2 linked regions of the Homo sapiens genome follow. The protein of the gene in region 2 purifies or fractionates together with the protein of the main gene of each other region. This does not show direct contact. Each region holds a gene or a part of one and is shown on either strand. Other genes may lie near its edges.

Region 1 (3,500 bases), on a different chromosome or scaffold from region 2:
AAGTACCTAGCACAGAACATGGTAAATGCTCAAATAAATGGTTATTGTTATTATTATAATATGATCAAAAACTTCTGTCTGATATGTCAGCAATGCTGCCTAAGTCAGAAGGGGCCATGAAGGGCAAGGCTTTTCCCGAGCAACTGCTGACATCAAGTTCAGAAATGGTCTCAGCTCCAGGCACTGAGGCTCATCCCTTGGATACTTGGAATGAACTTGCGCTTACATCCTTGAACACTCGCCGTTCCCGCTCCTCCTCCTCCGGCTGTGCGTGGGGGGAAACATTGTCGATCGTATATTTCCACAGCTCCTGCTTCTCCCCCTCCGTCTCAATCCTGTAAGGTCAAAACCACAGAAAGGAGCAACTCTAATAATGAGAGATGGGCCCTGGGATAGCTCCCAGCCCAGGGATGAGCGATCAGGGGCCATACACCTCACTAAAGTATATGATGATAAAAGTGGCTGTATTGACGACCAGGAGAGAGAAACAAAAGGGTAAAGCAGAGAGGGCACCAGACTAGACTCAGAAAGTATAGGTTCTGGGCCCATTTCTGGCTTGAAGTTACAGTCAAACTGTAAGGCACAACATTCCTGCCACCCAGTTCTCTCACCTGAAAAATGGACAGGTTGGGCCAGATAATTTCTAATTTACATTTCTGTCATTTCCAAGATACAGAGATGAGGAACAGTCAGCCCACAGGAAAAGCCTGGCTGAGTTCACCCCACTCTGTTCTGGTCAGGTCCTACATTCAGCAGCACAGAGAATCACTGTCATTTAACTGTACCACTGAAGTGATCCCTTTCAAATTGGTGCAGTTGCACATTTTCTGAGAAAGGAGTCCCTGGTTTTCTAAGGCCCTATGACTTGGAACAGAATACGAACCATTGCCTGGGAATGTAAAAGTTAGAACAGATGAAGGACTTTCTGACAGTCTAGTTGACTAGGGACAAAAAGTGCAACCAAGGGAAGGAATGCCAGTCTCCACTACCCCTTTCTTCCTCTCCTCACCTGTAGGGTCCTTTGAGGCCCGTGAAGTCAGGCTTTACTGTGATCACACCATTGCTATCCACCTTCAGAGTACACAGGACATGTTCATACTTCTTATAGCCAAGCCTAGAAATCAGGAAAACACCAAGGTTGAGGTCAATGGTCCTTCAGGGAAACAAGAAGAGATACTGAGCCCACTGCAGGGGAGAGAACAGAGGCTATAGGGAGAGCTGTCATGGTAAAACTTTCTTCCAAGTACAACTAAGAAAAAAAAGGAAGAAAAAGTCCCTTCCTCTCCTATAACCCAGGATGATAACAGGAAGGGGATAGCTGGTGAGAGGAGAAGAAGATGAGGATCTGAGTTGGCAGTGAGAAGCTTCACTCATAACTAAGAAGAGAAGGAAGAAAAAGTCCCTCCCTCCCCTATAACCTAGGATGATAATAACAGGAAGGGGAGAGCTGGTGAGAGGAGAAAAGGATGAGGCTCTAAGCTGGCAGTGAGAAGCGCCACTCACTTTTTATAGGGCCCCAGGTCTGCCATGATGTGCATTGTCTGAAGAGGGGTGTTAATGACGTGGTTGTTCCTGACAAACTCTTCTGAGGGCTCCCAGGTGACGATGCGTGACTTGAGGATGCCGCCCTCCCTGGGAGACACCACAGAAAGGTCACTTCCCTGGCACACCCCAATGGAGCACCCCAGTGGAGAGCCACTTCAGAATGGGAAGTTTGAGCTAGTGGACATACTGTTTTGTTTTGTTTTTTAAGAGCCAAAATATTTGACAAACAGAAATGACATCCCTTCCCTCTCTCTGAGGCACTTTGGAAAAATGTCCACATGAAGAGTGAGGAAGATATTTTATATTTTTATATTTATTTTTTAAATTAATTACAAAGTAATACTTGAATACTATATATAACCACTGATAAAAATGCAAAACTACCCAACTTTAGGAAATAAAAAGTAAAAGCTTGTCCCCCATCCCATGCCCGCACTCACATCCCTCGCCTGTCCTGCCGGCGACGCCTGACATTTGCCATTCGCTCGACCAAGAATGAAGGCACCTCGCTGGCTGCAGTGGTCATTCTCTGACAGTGCTGGGAAAAGCAAGCAGCCCTGTGTACGCCATCTGGTCAGGGCCACATGGAGCCAAGTACCTGAAGGGAAGTCTTCCTCCTGAAACCTCATCCAGGACCTGAACCCCACAGGTTCCGCCACCTCACAATTATACATGCTAACGGAGGGAGCAGTAGCCAAACAACCCAAAGAAGATTTCTACCACATCATGGTTTGCCTTTGGATTTTAAAAAGGAGTTATTTATGTTAATATTAAAATCAGTCTGCATTCTCTGAGCACAAACCAACAAAAAGTTGGGTTAGTGTGCTTGGTAGATGTTGAAGTTAACAAGGTGGTTAGAAAATGCCAAATGGGATACAAGCATTTTGTGGGAAATCCTCACATGGTAACTGAGCACTAACTGCATTTTCATTTGCTTTTCCAAAACAGACAACCCAAATTTTATTTAATTTATATATTTTTTTAAGAGACAGGGTCTCACCCAGGCTGCAGTGCAGTGGTGCTATCATAGCTCACTGCAACCTTGAACTCCTTGGCTCAAGTGATCCTCCCGCCTCAGCTTCCCACGTAGCCGGGACTACAGGTACATGCCACCATGCCCAGCTAATGTTATCAATCCACAGCTCTAATAATGAAAGCACGTCAATCTTTCAAAAACATTTATTGAATACCTGTTCCTTGCAGAGACCTACAGAGTCATAGACAAAAATAAAAAAAATAGGCTCTACCCTCGAGGAGCTTAAAATCTTACTGAGAAGACAGAAGCAACTGAAATGCAGTGACTGAAGAAAATGTAAAACAAGGTCACAAGGGTATTTTTGTCATAGGCAAATTGAGGACATAAGCCATTTTCCATAGCTATACTGAATTCCTCTTCAAACCCATATACTCAGAGTTTGGGCTGAATCCCCTGATGAATTTTATCTATATTGTTCCAGACTCCACTACCTGTCTTTTTTCATGATGCATGGAGGAAGTCAAGCCCAGTGGTTACTTCTCCCAGTATGCACTCTGCAAGCATATAATCAGAGATACTGGCAGCTCCCCCAGGCCCTCTAGCAGGCAGAGAAGGGAGCAGCAGCCTCACCACCTGTAGACTGTGCCCATTCTATTCCAGGCTGGCTGCCAGCAGCAGCAGCTCACAGCAGTTCCTAGACAGGCTACTTGTCTCCCCTTACTAGGCTCTGACATAACACACAGAACTCAGTGAGGCAAAAAAGCTAGAGGAAGCAAAGATGGAAGCTATGAGACCCTAGAAAGAACAATACCTCCTCCAAATTGGTGTATCTATCAGAGTCAGTGTAGGTAAAGATTCGTCGGTTTTTCTTGCCACCCGAATTCTCCAGCTTCAGGATCTCCTGACGGTACTGATAATCCAAAGGACTCTGACAGGCTGTTTCATTTTGGTACAGATCTACTTCAAACTGAGGTTACCA
Region 2 (3,500 bases):
GGACTCACAGTGCTTAACCTTATAGGGAGAATTCGAATTAAATAATTGAATTAAATAGAATGTTTGTAAAGTGCATAATTTAGTGCCTTGTGTCTAGTACATGCTTAATAGTAACTGCTTGCTAGCAATAGTAATATAATTGTTGGTTAGTCTCATCAGCTGACATCTCAGAGAAGGGCCATTTTAGGATTGGTCTTTTCTGAAGGAAACCAGAACTCTCCAAGTGATTGAAAAGTTTGAGAAGATCAAGGGACTATCCCCTTCCCATCCTTATTGTCCCATAAATTCCTAAGGGCCAGGGTTGAAGGGCAGGGGCTGAACTGTGTTGTTTTGGGGCCTGCACACCTTTGGGTAATGCGTATGGACAGCTGCTTCACTCCTGTCACTTAACTAATTTGGCAAATCACTAAATTTTCCTTTTGAACTGTATTACATGATTTTGTATCAAAAATCTCATTCTATAAAATAAAACATTGGAATGACATTTCAGTGGTTTTGTGGGGGCACTCATGCAAATTAGAGATGATATACTACAGAAAACAAAGTTTAAAAATCTTAAATATTGTCACTTAAGATTAAAAGATCAAAATGAGTTGAAAATAAAACAGAACTGCAGAAAATGAAATCAGTAACCATTTTGTTTTCTGTAGTGAAAGACTTAAAGGAATGGGCTACTGAGTGGGACAAATGGGCTAGTTCTCTATTTCCTAGCAAATTGCCCCAAAACTTAGTGCCTTAAAACAAACATTAATTATCTTTGAGTTTCTTTGGGTCAGGAATTGGGCCTGCCTTAGCTCTGGGTGCCTCTGCCTCAAGGTGTCTCATGAGGGGCTGCAGTCAGGGTTCTGTGGGCTAGTTCTAACCAATGGGCTAGTTCTCTATTTCCTAGCAAATTGCCCAAAACTTAGTGCCTTAAAACAAACATTTATTATCTTTGAGTTTCTGTGGGTCAGGAATTGGGCCTGCCTTAGCTCTGGGTGCCTCTGCCTCAAGGTCTGTCATGAGGGGCTGTAGGTATGGAGCTGTGGTCTCATCTGAAGGCTCAGCTAGGGCAGGATCCTTATTTACACTCACATTTGTAGTTGTTGGCAGGATTCAGGTCTTCACGGGCTGTTAGCCTGAGAGCCTGAGTCCCTCACTGGCTGTAGGTCAGAAGCCACTCTCAGTTTCTTGCCCCAGCAGTCACTCCCAGGGCAAATTACCACATGGGCAGCTGGCTACCATCCCAGTGAGCAAGCTAGAGAGAGGAAGGCAGGGTGTACACAGCCTTTGTCGCCTAACCTCAGAGGTGACTTAGTATCACTTGCCACATTCTTTTGGTTAGAAACAAGTCACCCACAGAGGAGGGGATTTCACAAGAGCATGAGTATCAGGAGGTGAGGGTCACTGGGGCCACTTTAGAGGCTGCCTGCCTGAATCTGTCCTTTGCCCCATAAGGAGTCATGTCCCTCCCACATGCAAAATGCACTGGCCCTCTCCCAAGCTCTCCAAACATCTCATCCCTTTACAGCATCAGCCCAAAGTCCAGATTTGTCATCTAAATCAGGTCCAGATGGGAATGAGGCTTTGGGCGACACATCTGTATAATTTATTGCTGCATATCCAGTCACCCCGACATTTAGCAGCTTAAAACACTCTCATCTCACAGGAGGGAGGGATCACTGGGTGCTGTCTCAGCAGCTGCCTCCATAGCTGTCCAGGTTCACGTCCTTCCACATACTAGCTGTGTGCCCTTGGGCTGGTCATTTCCCTTCTGTGCCTCACTTTCTCATCTATAAATGGGGCCAATAATATTACTTATCTACTAGGGAGAAGTAATGATTAAATGACATAATTTCTCAAGTAATTGGTGTTGTCCCTGGCACAGAGTAAGTACTGAATAAATGATAACCATTTATAATTATTTGAATTATTTTTCTTAAGAAAAAACTTGAGAAGCTTTCTGAGAATGTAGATCGAAAAGGATAATGAGGGAGAAAAAATGATAGGCCTAAGATACAAGAGGCAGGAATCCAACCTAAAACACTCTAGTGGTTCTTCAAGTTGTCCAAGGACATCAGAAACAATCATTAAAGTTTAAGAAACAAAAACTACTAAACCAAAAGTATTTGTGCCTGCTGATTAAAGTATTCCGTGCGATACAAGCAGTGTTAGAATGTCAGGATGCAGGAGGGGTATGGAGGGGCATGTTGGGCATGTTGAGGTGAGGCCTCATGGGAGGTAACTGAACCCCGTGGGAAATGACTGGCTCCACCCCCATTGTCAGTCACCTCACATTAGAGATTGCAGACCCATTCAGTTTAGGAAACTGCAGAGGGAACCTATGACCACACTGTCTGCAGTTGTCCACACAGCTCAGGGATTCAGACCCAGCATGAACCAGCTTTTGGCCCACATGGGACACTCTTCTGGCCTGTGCTGTGACCAACATGAGAGAGAGCAGCTTGCTTCTTCTCAGCCCCATCTCCCAGTCTGTACCAGGCTGGGCTACAGGATGTCTGAGGGCTCTTTATCCCATGGATGTCTGATTCAGGATCAGGACCTTACTTACCATTTGTGCCCAGAGCACTTGGCATGGATGGGGTTAGGCAAATGCAGTTGAGTTACACTTGTGTTGAAGTGGAGTCCCAGTTGTAAATGTGATGTGTCTGCCCTCTCTGCCCAGCCTCCAGCCCTAACCTGTCTTCCTCCCTCTCTCTCATTCCCATGTCAGGCCAAGTGCAGGAACATGGAGCATGCACTGCGGGAGAAGGCCAAGGCCTTCTGGGCCATGCGGCGCTCCTATGAGGCCATCGCCAAGCACAATCAGGTGAGCGAACGATGGGGCCAAGTGGGAAGATTGGGTCCACTCAGGGCAGTCTGGGGAGGAGTGAAGATGTGTCAGCCGTGGCTTTGGCTCACATAACCCGCTGGGTAGAGGTCGGCTGCCTTACCTCTGATGGTCCTGTGCAGCCACGTCCTGGATGCTGACTGTGGCTTCTCTGCCTTGGCCCCTCTAAAGACCCAGGCGTGGTCATGCCAGCAGCCACAGGAGTGACTTAAAAAGCTACCAACACCATCTGCACTATGGCACATGCATCATATCACTGCCACCTGTGTGTTCAATGATGACCTGGGACTCATGTACTTTCTTGTTTTCTTTCAGTTCCCACATCCACTCCATCAGCAATCCTATTCCCCTATCTCCAAAGTATGTTATTTCTGTAAAACCCTCCACCTTTTGGTCCAGGTCATCATCATCTCTCACTGGGCCTCCTGCCTAGGGCCTCATGCTTTCATTCTTGTGCATTCTCCTTTCCATGGACTGGGGTGATCGTTTAGAAAAAAACACCAGCCGTGCCCCTCCTCTGCTTAAAACTGCCAGTGGCTTCCAGTCACCCTCAGTACCACCCAGATTCCTTACCATGGCCTCCAAGGCCATCTCCTGACCCTGCCTATCCTCAACCTCATTTACTTCTCTGCCTCACCTTCTTTCTGTCCCTTAAGCAAACTAAGTCTTC

Evidence for each region. Proteins that work in one complex are often made in the same cells at the same time.
Region 1: the proteins of TRIM35 (region 2) and MKS1 purify together in Homo sapiens (affinity purification with mass spectrometry; 2 studies listed by BioGRID and IntAct, with this or other methods). This does not show direct contact.

Annotation. Positions count from the first base shown.
Region 1 is NC_000017.11:58,212,756-58,216,255, forward strand, and holds part of MKS1 (tectonic-like complex member MKS1), read right to left. Parts: intron 3,489-3,500; coding exon 3,333-3,488; intron 2,144-3,332; exon of another isoform or gene 2,084-2,143; coding exon 1,986-2,083; intron 1,633-1,985; coding exon 1,504-1,632; intron 1,115-1,503; coding exon 1,010-1,114; intron 336-1,009; coding exon 227-335; intron 1-226. UniProt on the Homo sapiens protein: Component of the tectonic-like complex, a complex localized at the transition zone of primary cilia and acting as a barrier that prevents diffusion of transmembrane proteins between the cilia and plasma membranes.
Region 2 is NC_000008.11:27,297,773-27,301,272, reverse strand, and holds part of TRIM35 (E3 ubiquitin-protein ligase TRIM35), read left to right. Parts: intron 1-2,713; coding exon 2,714-2,809; intron 2,810-3,500. UniProt on the Homo sapiens protein: E3 ubiquitin-protein ligase that participates in multiple biological processes including cell death, glucose metabolism, and in particular, the innate immune response.